Linked DNA regions of Homo sapiens. The protein of the gene in region 3 purifies or fractionates together with the protein of the main gene of each other region. This does not show direct contact. Each region holds a gene or a part of one and is shown on either strand. Other genes may lie near its edges.

Region 1 (3,642 bases), on a different chromosome or scaffold from region 3:
AAAATTAGCCGGGCACGATGGTGGGTTCCTGTAATCCCAGCTACTCGGGAGGCTGAGCAGGAGAATCACTTGAGCCCAAGAGGCGGAGGTCGCAGTGAGCCAAGATCACACCACTGCACTCCAGCCTGGGCGGCTGAGTGAGACTCTGTCTCAAAAAATAAAATAAATAAATAAATAAATAAATAAATAAATAGCCGGGCATCGTGGCGCACACTGGTAATCCCAGCTACTCGAGAGGCTGAGCAGGAGAATCTCCTGAATCCAACAGGCGGAGGTTGTAGTGAGCCGAGATGGCACCACTACACTCCAGCCTGTGTGACAGAGCAAGACTCGTCTCAAAAATAAATAAATTAATTAATTAAATAAAATTAAAAAAAACAGAAAAACACCTCAACACTCAACCAGTGCTTGTCTCTGTGTTGCAGAGTTATGAGTGACTTTGGTTTTTTGTTTACCCCTCTTCTACTTCCTGGATTTCCTACCATGTACATGAATTACCTTTAAAGTTTAAAAAAAGAAGGAGTAGAAGTAATTTTATATGAAAAAGAAGGTTCAATGTTGACACTAAACAACCAGGACATTCTGGGCACCCCTCAGTTCCTGGGCCTGCCCCCATACTCACACCCTGAGCACTTCACTCAGGAGGGACCAGGAAGAGGTAGGGACAAGGAAAGACAAGAAATCACATTCAGGCTGCAGAGTACAGCGAACGGCTCCCACCTGAAAACCACTGGTAACAAATACTGGGAGATAAAAATGCTGGTTCTTGGCCGGGTGCAGTGGCTCACGCCTGTAATCCCAACACTCTGGGAGACTGAGAGGGGCGGATCACCTGAGGTCAGGAGTTTGAGACCAGCCTGACCAACAAGGAGAAACCCCGCCTCTACTAAAAATACAAAATTGGCTGGGCGTGGCAGCGCATGCCTGTAATCCCAGCTACTTGGGAGGCTGAGGCAGGAGAATCGCTTGAAACTTGGAGGCAGAGGTTGTGGTGAGCTGAGATCGTGCCACTGCACTCTAGCCTAGGCAACAAAAAAAGAAAAAGAAAGAAGAAAAGGCAAACGCTGCTGGGTGCAGTGGCTCACACCTGTAATCCCTTTGGGAGGCCAAGGTGGGAGGATCACTTGAGTCTAGGAGTTCGGGACCAACCTGGGCAACATAACAAGACCTCATCTCTACAAAAATAGAAAAAAATTAGCCAGGCATGGTGGCACGTGCCTGTGGTCCCAGCTACTTGGGAGGCTGAGGCAAGAGAACTGCTAAAGCCCAAGAGCTCAAGGCTTCGGTGAGCCATGATCCCACCACTGCACTCCGGCCTGGGTGACAGAGCAAAACCCTGTCTCAAAGAAAAAAAAAAAGGAAAAGCTGGAGCTGGAACAAGGCCTTGGGGAAGGTTAACACACTCTACACTCCAGACCCCAGAGGAAGGGGCCTGCCTCTCAGATTATCAATCTCCAGCCTGAAAAGCTTGGATCTGGTCACCCTCATCACAACATCACCCCTTGATCAAAACCCTTGGTGCCCTCAGTGTTTCTCAGGACAGGCAAGTGGAAACCCTTGCTGAGCTATCATCCACCTGCCATCCACTAAGGGACAGCCCCTTTGGTACAGCAGCTCAGGCTGGCCCTCCACATATGGGCTCTCTCCCCTTCCTGCCCTCTGCTGGGCAGGCCTTTCTCTGCTTCCTCAGTGGGCCAGCTCCACCTGGGCTTTCAGGATGCAAAGCTCTGTGGCCTTACTGTGGCCACGGGGCCTGGGAACACACTGCCTTTGTTATCTTCCAGGAGCTCTGGGGCGGCACCTGCATCCCTTTGCCAGTAGTTTGTCACCCCATAAGGGCAGAGGTTTTTTTTTGTTTTTTTTTTGAGACAGAGTCTCACTCTATGGCCCAGGGTAGTGTACAGTGGCACGATCTCAACTCACTGCAACCTTTGCCTGCCAGATCCCAGAGATTCTCGTGCCTCAGCCTCCTGAGCAGCTGGGACTACAGGCACGTGCCACAATGCCCAGCTAATTTTTTGTATTTTTTAGTAGAGATGGGGTTTCACTATGTTGGCAAAGCTGGTCTCAAACTCCTGGCCTCTAGTGATCCTCTGTCTCAGCCTCCCAAAGGGCTGAGATTACAGGTGTGAGGCAGCACACCTGAACTCAAGGCAGAGATTTTTACTCTGTTATACCCCTTCCCTCTGCACCACAGCTGGCTGGCAGTAAATAACTGCTGAGTGGATGAGTTGGCAGGCTGTCCTCTGGGCTTCCACATACCCCTCATTTCTCTCTTGCCACAGTGAGCCTCCCAAGGGCATCTGGGTCATTCCTTGGATCATCAGGCTATGGCTGGGTGCAAGCACATGCTGACTGCCCTCACAAGCCAAACCCTGTGCTGGTGACCCTCAAAGACTCACATCCAGGCCCCATCCAGGCCCCAGCAGGCACTTACTCGCCAGGATGTGGGGGCTGAGGGCTGGCCACCTGATTCTGCTTGGCTTTCTGTTCCATTTTGGCTTCAATTTCCCGTTTCTTCTGAGCGATGAGCTCTTCCTGGTGAAGGATGTTCATGTTCATTTTTCCAGATTTAGGGGGAGCAACCCCAAACCACCGGTTAGCCTTTCCTGGGGAGGGAAAAGGAGTACGTCGGAAATCACCCTTACTCCACAAACACCCCAAGAAGCTGTGACAGGCCAGAGAGCAACTGATGTTCAGATTAATTTATATGTCTATTAGTTCATTTATTCAGCAAACACTTACAGAGTGCCTGCTGCATACCATACCCTGTACTTACTACGTGCTATGCAAGAGAACACAGGTCTCTGCCCACGTGGGACTCGCTTCAGGCTGGGAAGACAATAGACCCATAATAAAAAAGTAACTTTCGGGCTGGTGCAGAGGCTCATGCCTGCAATCCCAGCACTTTGGGAGGCAGGGGCAGGCGGATCACTTGAGGTCAGGAGATCGAGACCAGCCTGGCCAACGTGGTGAAACCCTGTCTCTACTAAAAATACAAAAATTAGCTGGGTATGGTGGCATGTGCCTGTAATCCCAGCTACTAGGGAGGCCGAGGCAGGAAAATTGCTTGAACCAGGGAGGTGAAGGTTGCAGTGAGCCGAGATGGTGCCACTGCACTCCAGCCTGGCAACAGAGCAAGACTCTGTCTCAAAAAAAAAAAAAAAAGTAAGTGCACAATGTGGTAAGAGCTCTGCTGAAAACCAAAAAAGGGTGAAAAAGTAACAGGAGAGTACATATGCAGGTAGGACAGGCAGAAAATAAACACTAGAAGAGGAGACATTTAAACCAGAAAAAACAAATAAGAAGCCAGCGTCATGAAAAGCCAAATGGGAGATGATCTGGGCAGAAGAAGGAGCAGATGTGAAAGCTCAAGGCAGGAAGAAGCCTGGTACATCCAAGGAGCAGCAAGTGCCCAGTGTCAGAGGGGCCTGCTCCAGGGACAGGCAGAGGTGAGGCATGTCAGAGCATCTGTGCTTTATTATAAGGGCTTTGGGGAGTGATGGAGAAGCACTAAGATGAAGAATGCAAGATCCATTGGGTCTTTTTTTGAGACAGGGTCTGGCTCTGTTTCTCAGGCTGGAGTGCAGTGGTGTGATCTCAGCTCACTGCAGCCTCCGCCTCCCCGGCTCAAGCAATCCT
Region 2 (4,434 bases), on a different chromosome or scaffold from region 3:
CACTCACAAACCCAAGATCTTCAGAGGCTTCATGCCACTCAGGGTGAATTCAAACTCCCAGGTGGAACTCAAGGCTTTTCCCAGTCTGCTGTCAGCCTAGCTCACTCACTTCACCCCATCTACCCTGGGGCCACCACTGCCCTTCTCCCAAGAGCTGGTGGGCAGGAACCACGCCTGTCACTTTATATCCACTGTCCCTTCGGGGGAAGGCACTTTCCCTCACTTGTTCTTGCCGGTCCTGATCATCCTTCAAAATGAAGCTCAAGTCCATCTCAGAGCCCCACCCCCACCACAATCCAGCTGGATGCCACGCCTTTGCGCCCACAGAAGGCTCTGTCCACCTCTGTGGGAGCTTCTACCATGTGTTTATTCTCCTGTCTCCTCACTGCACTATAAGCTCAAGGGCAGAGACCAAGTCTTAACACCAAATCCACAGAACACACGGCATGGTGCCTCCTATGAAGTGTGAATTCAATAAATGCATTTTTATTGTTTTGTTTTTCAGAGACAGGGTCTCACTCTGTTGCCCTGGCTTGAGTGCAGTGGCACAATCACAGCTCACTGCAGTCTTGAGCTCCCAGGCTCAAGTGATCCTTCTGCCTCAGCTTCCCAAGTAGCTGGGACCACAGGCACATGCCACCATACTTGGCTAATTTTTTATAGAGACGAGACCTCCCTATGTTGCCCAAGGTGGTCTTGAACTCCTGGGCTCATGCGATCCTTCCACCTCAGCCTCCCAAAGTGTTGGGATTGCAGGCGTGAGCCACCGCACCTCGCTTAACAAACACATGTTGAAAGGATACAGAAAATCATTGAATAATGAATTCAAGTTGGTCCTCAGTAAAAAGCCTGAGGTTTTGTTTCTTTGATTTTATCTCCAATTGAAAGGCAATGTTTGAAACAGCCACTGAAATTGCTGCTTTGAGTTGAAAAGGACTTCTTTCTTCCATTTACAGAGTTGTCATAACAGAAAAGGTATGCTCAGACAGGTAAAACATTGAACAGGGTAAATGTTAAGTGCTTTTTTTGTAACCTGCTTCATTGTCCTTATGTACTTTAAACCAGAAACCATCTAAAGGCAAACATTTAATATGTTTTCTGAGCTTGGCTCAATCTGTAGATAATTAAGAGCAACACTGCATGCCCAAGGTCACTCGAGCCTGCTGGACACTCCTGGCAGGTGTGGTCAGCGAGAGCTAGTAAGGCTACCCTACAGGTGACTTCACAGACCCTGGGTGGCCAAATTTATTGTTGTTATGAAAACCTTGCCTAGATTACTTCTGCATCTCGGAAGGTCACCCTCAACCCAGTGGAAAGCCACTGCAATAGTTGACATCTATCACTCCGACAAAAGGACCTTGATCCACTTCAACCATCATGTAGAGAAAACCTCTGGTCCGGCCCTGGCCAGGCTGTGGGGAAGCAAAGATGAACAGCGTGGCTCCCGCCCTCTTCACAGGGAAAGACAGGCTTCTAAGTAGAGCAAGCACTCCCCAATAAGTCCTCCATGTAAAGCCTCTATCTGAGTGTTCAGATTAGATGAGGATCAACCCTCAGAATAAAAGGCGGTGCACGCAGGGGTCACGCCACAGGCTAGGAACAGTAACTGTAAAATCTTCGTAAGATTTTCTGATCTTCTCTAATCTGGATTGGTTTTTTTTCCCAGTGTGTGTTCCTTAAAATGAAAAGAACCTGACTGCTTGTCTTCGCCGCAACTGAGCAAACATTTACAGGTGCCTACTGTGTGCTGAAGACAGAGCCCTGGCCCTCGGGCGGAGGAAACGCCACGTGTGCCATCTACAGGTGCCTACTGTGTGCTGAGGACAGACTGTGAAGACGGAGCCCTGGACCTCGGGTGGAGGAAACGGCCCACGTGCCAAATAATGGGACGGTTCCTTCTGCACACTGCCTGGAAGTCACCTGGTGACTCCAGAGCAAACACAGCAAAACAGGGAAAAATCACCCGCTAGTGCTTCTATCGGCACTGGAAGGGCAGGCTGACGCCCCCTTTCTGGAATAAGCTGCTGGGTAAAGACAGTGACATCGGCTTCACAACCACAGCCACCAACCTAACAGCCCACCTGCACCTCCACACCACCCAGGTGGCTTTTAGACAACCTTTGACCTTTAATATCACCCCCGCAAGCAGTAACCCGGGGGCCACAGCGCGTTTCCCTGCGGGGCACGGCCATCAAAGAAGGCCTGTGGCCAGGCCGCGGGGACTCCCGCCTGGAGGGGGCGGGAACAGGTGCAGCCCAGCCCAGGTGGGGCCGGCTCTCCCCTCCGCTGTGCTGGCTCAGGGCTGGGAGTCCCTGGCTTCCACCTCCCAGGGCCCGAAGGACAGCGGCCGCCTGGCACGGCGCACCCAGAGGGGCCCCCCACTGGACAGGGCCGGGGGCTGGCGGACCCCCAAGCGGGTGGTCGGTGGGGGCGTGTGTCATCCCTGGGCGGGGCGGGGCGGGGCCCGGGGCCGCTGCAGGTCCACAGGGCAGGGCGTATCAGAATCTGTTGCAATCTCACCGAGCCCCCAAGAGGATTTCCGACCCTGCGGAGACGGAAAGCGCCCCAAGGAAACAGTGACACAGTCACTCTTCCAGACGACACCATGCCCTGGGCCGGGCCGCGGGCCAGCGACCGGGCGGGGATCGGGCCTCGCGCCCAGGGGGTCCCGCTCCTGCGCCCCCTCCCGTAGGCCAAGCCGCAGCTGCAGCGCCGGGCGGTGCCGGGCTCTGGAGCCCCCAACCCGCGCGTGGCCGGGGATCCCCGCCTCGAATGGGGCCCGCAGCCCGGCCCCCACGCTCCCGCCCCCAGCACGCGCCGACCGCGGTGACAGCGGGGACCCGGCCCCGCCACCCGCCACCCCGCCGCGCGCCCCCCGCACGCCCCGAGCGCACCCACCTCCGCGCGCCGCTTTCTCCTCAGCCTGCCGCGCCGGCCTTTCTGCGCACGCGCGTGCTCGGCCCCGCCCCCGCCGAGCTGTCGCCCTGTGCCCACCCCGGAGAGCCCGCGGGGCTCCGGCCTGCCCGGCTCTGGGCATGCGCGCTGACGGTCGGCGGCCGCAGCGGCGGAAGCTGGGGCCGGCCGGGAACCGGTCCCGTGCGGAGAGGAGGCAACGGCAGTGCGGTCCCGGGGGGACAAGCCAAGGGGGGCGGGGGGTGGCACGGCCCTGCCGAGGGCATCGGGGGCCCGGACAGCCGCCTGTCGGAGTCGCGGTCCGGCCGGGTCACGCGTGGATCCGGAACCGCGTGGGCACGACGTCCCTTCCCGAGTCGGGGGAGAAGGGCTGGAAGGAGGTTCTGGGACGGGCCCTGAGCTGAGGAGCTGTGGCGCCGAGGGTCAGAGACGCGGCAGAGAGAGGGACGGCCGGACGGAGCCGGCAGACGGGGACACAGGCGGCCAAGAAAGTTACGGGACCCGGCAGCAGACGCCGCGGGGCGCCCGGACGCGGACGCCCAGCCCGCAGGGGCCAAGGCCGCCGCCCTCGTGGGGCTGCAGGAGGCAGGGGACGCCCTGTCCCCCCATGGGGGTCCAAGGCGCCTGCGGTGGCCACAGTCTTTGGGGAGGTCAGTGCGCTCCCTGGCGGGTCGCCGCACAGGTGGGGGTGCATCACAGCGGCCCCGGGGATGATCTGAGATCCCCGAGAGGGCCCGGCATCACGAAGGATTCACAGCCTTCCGGGTATCCCAGTGCCCCTGGGACAGGGCCGACAGCCAGAGGGCGGGAGACCATGGGGTCCTCCGGGTGTGCCATATCATCTGCCTCTGTGCGGGGCGGGCTGTCGCTGCGCCGGTCACATCCCCCCAGGGCCAGACGGGAGGTACCGAGGGAGCTGCCGGCGGGGACGGGGCGGCGGCCCAGGTGGCGACACGCGCGACGCGAGCAAGGACTCCTTGGCAGGCGAAGGCACAGGGTGAACGTGCGCCTAGATGTGGGAGCAGCGGCCGCCCTGCCCAGCCGGCGGGCTCAGGCGGCGCTGCAGCGCCCCCGCCGTTCGCGTCGCTGCAGCCTCCGCAGGCGCCGCGTCCACGCGTCCCTCCAGGGTAGCACGAGGCTTCCGCGGGCGGCGATGAGCCCGGGCCCCCGGCCCCCCGCGCCCCCAGCCGCGGCTCCAGGCCCGCCCCCCAGCAGGAGGTAGCGGCGGCCGGGGAGCAGGCGCGGGCAGCCGCAGGCCGCATCCCCGGCGGGCACCCACAGCGCGCTACTCCCGCGCCGCGCGCGCTCCTCTCCGCTCCGGAACACGGCGAGCACCGCCACCGGGAAGCGTGTCCACGCGCCGCGCGCCTCGCCGCGCGCACCCACCGCCACCTGCACCGCTGCGGGGAGAGCGAGAGGGGGCGGGGTCAGGAAGGGGCGGCCTGCCCGCGGTAGGGGGAGGCACGGGGAGGACACCAGGAGGGCAGTGGGGGCTGAAGGGGCGGGGTCGCTGCCCGTGGA
Region 3 (4,099 bases):
CCTTTACCATAATTAAAAACAAGTTAAGCTGATTATAGCATGTGTCCAGAATTTAGGTGGTTTTGCTTTATAAAGAGAAGAGGTGCAAACCACAGGCCACTTTCTCTCATGATAAACAGCGCCTGGAGGCAGCGTGGAGGAGACACATCCATCATCCACGTTTCTAGGAATAATGGACATGAGAGAAGTATGTATAAAGAAGGAATCCTGTGCTTCGGGAAGCCGAGGTGGGAGGATCGCTTGAGGTCAGGAGTTCGAGACCAGCCTGGGCAACCTAGTGAGACGCCCCCCCCACCACCTCTCTTAAAAAAAAAAAAAACACATATATATATATTTTTTAATTTGCACTTTTAATTTATAAAATTTTTAATTTTTAACATTTTAAATATATATAAATTTATATATAATTTTTAGAGAAAAAATATATAATATATATATACCTAGGAAGACCCCAACCTCTGAAAAAAATTTATATATATAAATTTTTAATTTATAAAATTTTAAATACATATTTACTTATTCTTTTTTTTTTTTGAGACGGAGTTTCACACTTGTTGCCCAGGCTGGAGTGCAATGGTGCAATCTTGGCTCACCACAGCCTCCACCTCCCGGGTTCAAGCGATTCTCCTGCCTCAGCCTCCCGAGTAACTGGGATTACAGGTATGCGCCACCACACCCGGCTAATTTTGTATTTTTAGTAGAGACAGGGTTTCTCCATGTTGGTCAGGCTGGTCTCGAACTCCCGACCTCAGGTGATCTGCCGGCCTCAGCCTCCCAAAGTGTTGGGATTACAGGCGTGAGGCACCGCGCCCGGCCAATACATATTTACATGTATAAATTTTTTTAAATTGAAAAAATTACATATGTATTTTAAGAGAGTTGGGGCGGGTCTCTCTAGATAAATATATATCTCTCTCTCTATATATATATATATTTTTTCTCTCTCTCTCTCTCTCTCTGTCTCTCTCCTTCTTTCTTTCTTTCGAAGGCATTCCAGGGGAGGCCTGTGCCCTACGGAGACCTCTCTGGGTTTCCTGCAAAGAACCGCTTGAGAAAGAATAGAAGAGAGAGCCAAGAGCGGAGAGAAACTCATTTAAATTCTCCTGTCTTCGCCTTTCCATTTGCAGCCTGGGGAACCCGGCGTGCAGTACCGCTCACCGCCCAGCCTCGCCCCCGCGCCCGCGACCAATGGGAGGCGGCCGGGCCGGGAGCGCGGCCAATGGCAGCGGCCGGAGGAGACGCGGCCGTTTAAGAAGCGGTGGGTGCGAGAGGGGGCAGAGCACCGGACGACAACAGCAGCAGCAACAACGCGGCAGCCGCCACCATGGCCCTGCAGGTACCCGGGGCGCGGGGAGGCCACGCGGGAGGGGCGCTCCGCGAGGGGAGTGCTTAAGTGGGGCTCCGGGTGGGCTTGGCGCCCCTGGGAGCGGTCGGCGGTGACCCGGGGGACACGCCCACTCCTTCCCCAGCGCCCCAGATGGCAGTGTAGACCGCACCTGTGCCTGCTGACGGCGAGCCAGGGCTCCCAGGGCAACCCTTCCGGACCCCAGGGGCCGGGTGAGCGGAAAAGCAGGCAAGGCAGGAGCGCCGGGGAGCACGGAGCGGGCCTCCTCCTCTCCGTCTCCGAGAGGGAGTCGAGATCCCCCGCTCCCGCCCCTTCGCTCGTTGGGACCTCCAGGACCTCTCTTAGTGTCATACTGAGCAGAAGAGATCTGTGAGGCTCCAATTTAAAAATACTGTTTTATAGGTATGTGAAAAAAATTGTTAAGGGTGGAAAACTTTGGAAAAGACAACAAATATAAAGTAATAATTACTGATAATAATCCAATGATAATTCCTTCACCCAGGTGATAATCACTGCTACATGCTAGGGTAATTCCTAGTATGTCCTAGTATGTTATTTTCCATGTGTGTATGTGTGTGGCATATATCTACACACATACCTATGATGTTATTGTGTATATAGTTTTATTCCTACACGTAAAACAGTAATATGAGCATTTTCTCATTATTAAATATTCTAAAATGTAATTTTATTTTTCTTTTTTGAGACAGAGTCTCATTCTGTTGCCCAGGTTGAGGCGCAGTTGGTGCGATCTCTGCTCACTGCAACCTCTGCTCACTGCAACCTCCACCTCCCAGGTGTAAGCGATTCTCATGTCTCAGCCTCCGCAGTAGCTGGGGTTACAGGTGCACGCCACCACGCCCGGCTGATTTTTGTAATTTTTTTTTTTTTTTTTTAAGATGGAGTCTCATTCTGTCACCCAGGCTGTTTGAGATGGAGTCTCACTCTGTCACCCAGGCTGGAGTGCAGTGGTGCAATCTCAGCTCACCGCAACCTCCGCCTCCCAAGTTCAAGTGATTCTCCTATCTCAGCCTCCCAAATAGCTGGGATTATAGGCGTGCGCCGCCACTCCTGGCTATTTTTCTCTATTTTTAGTGGAGATGGGGTTTCGCTGTGTTGGCCAGACTGGTCTCCAACTCCTGACCTCAAGTGATCCACCCGCCTTGGACACCCAAAGTGCTGGGATTTCAGGCGTGAGCCACCACGCCCGGCCTCTAAAATGTAATCTTTTACATGCACAAAATTTCATAGAACGTGGCTCACTTCTTTAACCATTTCAGTCAGGCAAGACGTTATCCTGCGTAAAGTTGTAATACATACTTCAGGGCCATCTGGGTTCAAATGTGTGCCTCACTTCTACTTAGCCTGTGACATAGTTAACCTCTCCGTGCCTCAGTTTCTTTATCTAAAAATGCAGGAGAGATACATTAAATGAGTTATATGTATAAAGCATTTAAAACAATGTTTGGCATGTGGTAGAAGTCCAATAAGGATAAGCTTGTGGTGGAACATTTAGTTTGTTTGTTTTGAGACAGGGTCTCACTCTGTCACCCAGGCTGGAGTGCAATGGCATGATCTCAGCTCACTGCAGCCTTGACCTCCTGGGCTCAAGTGATCCTGCCACTTCAGCCTCCCAAGTAGCTTGGACCACAGGCACCTGCCACCACACCTGGCTATTTTTTTTTTTTTTTTTTGAGATGGAGTTTCACTCTTGTTGCCCAGGCTGGAGTGCAATGGCGCAATCTTGGCTCACCGCAACCTCCACCTTCTGGGTTCAACCGATTCTCCTGCCTCAGCCTCCTGAGTAGCTGGGATTACAGGCATGTGCCACCACACCCAATTAATTTTGTATTTTTAGTAGAGATGGAGTTTCTCCATGTTGGTCAGGGTGGTCTCAAACTCCTGACCTCAGGTGATCTGCCCGCCTCAGCCTCCCAAAGTGCTTGGATTACAGGTGTGAGCCACCATGCCAGGCTTTCCTTTTTTGTATCTTTTGTAGACATTTGGTTTTGCTGTGTTGCCCAGGCTGATCTCCAACTCCTGAGCTCAAGCGATCCACCCGCCTTGGCCTCCCAAAGTGCTGGGATTACAGGCATGAGCCACCTTGCCTGGCTCAAATATTCTTGTGCGTGACTTATGTGTTTATACTGAACTCTCTCCAAAATGATCAAAATGTTCTTTCTAAAATTTCCTGAAAGATCTGAAAGTTTCCTTTTTAGCTTAGTACTTTGGTTTTCTGTTGTTGTTTGCTTTTAAAATACTTGCAACGAGGAATTAAGAGTTGAGGAACATCACAGAAAAGCAGTATGCTAAGAAGTATTAACATCGACCCATGATATTATCTACTAATAATGCATTTGCGTGTCAACAATATTGGGGGAAGGTAACTTTTTTTTTTTTTGAGATGGTGTCTTGCTCTGTTGCCCAGGCTGGAGTGCAATGGCGTGATCTTGACTCACTGCAACCTCCACCTCCCAGATTCAAGCAATTCTCCTGCCTTAGCCTCCTAGTAGCTGGAATTACAGGTGCCTGCCACCACGGCCGGCTAATTTTTGTATTTTTAGTAGAGACAGGGTTTCACCATGTTGGCCAGGCTGGTCTTGAACTCCTGACCTCAAGTGATCTGCCTGCCTCAGCCTCCCAAAGTGCTGGGATTACAGATGTGAGCTACCACGCCCAGCTGAAAGTAACTTTTAAAAATGACAACTAATAACTGGCTGACATATTGAAATCTCTTCTGTCTTTATTACCTCA

The links.
Region 1: the proteins of ACBD7 (region 3) and SUGP1 purify together in Homo sapiens (affinity purification with mass spectrometry; 2 studies listed by BioGRID and IntAct, with this or other methods). This does not show direct contact.
Region 2: the proteins of ACBD7 (region 3) and TBC1D24 purify together in Homo sapiens (affinity purification with mass spectrometry; 2 studies listed by BioGRID and IntAct, with this or other methods). This does not show direct contact.

The regions. Positions count from the first base shown.
Region 1 is NC_000019.10:19,313,985-19,317,626, forward strand, and holds part of SUGP1 (SURP and G-patch domain-containing protein 1), read right to left. Parts: intron 2,610-3,642; coding exon 2,438-2,609; intron 1-2,437.
Region 2 is NC_000016.10:2,473,635-2,478,068, reverse strand, and holds the start of TBC1D24 (TBC1 domain family member 24), read right to left. Parts: upstream 2,943-4,434; 5' UTR 2,899-2,942; intron 1-2,898. Other genes in the region: NTN3 (netrin-3 precursor), read right to left, coding at 3,964-4,313. UniProt on the Homo sapiens protein: May act as a GTPase-activating protein for Rab family protein(s). Involved in neuronal projections development, probably through a negative modulation of ARF6 function. Involved in the regulation of synaptic vesicle trafficking.
Region 3 is NC_000010.11:15,085,954-15,090,052, reverse strand, and holds the start of ACBD7 (acyl-CoA-binding domain-containing protein 7), read left to right. Parts: upstream 1-1,276; 5' UTR 1,277-1,324; coding exon 1,325-1,336; intron 1,337-4,099. UniProt on the Homo sapiens protein: Binds medium- and long-chain acyl-CoA esters.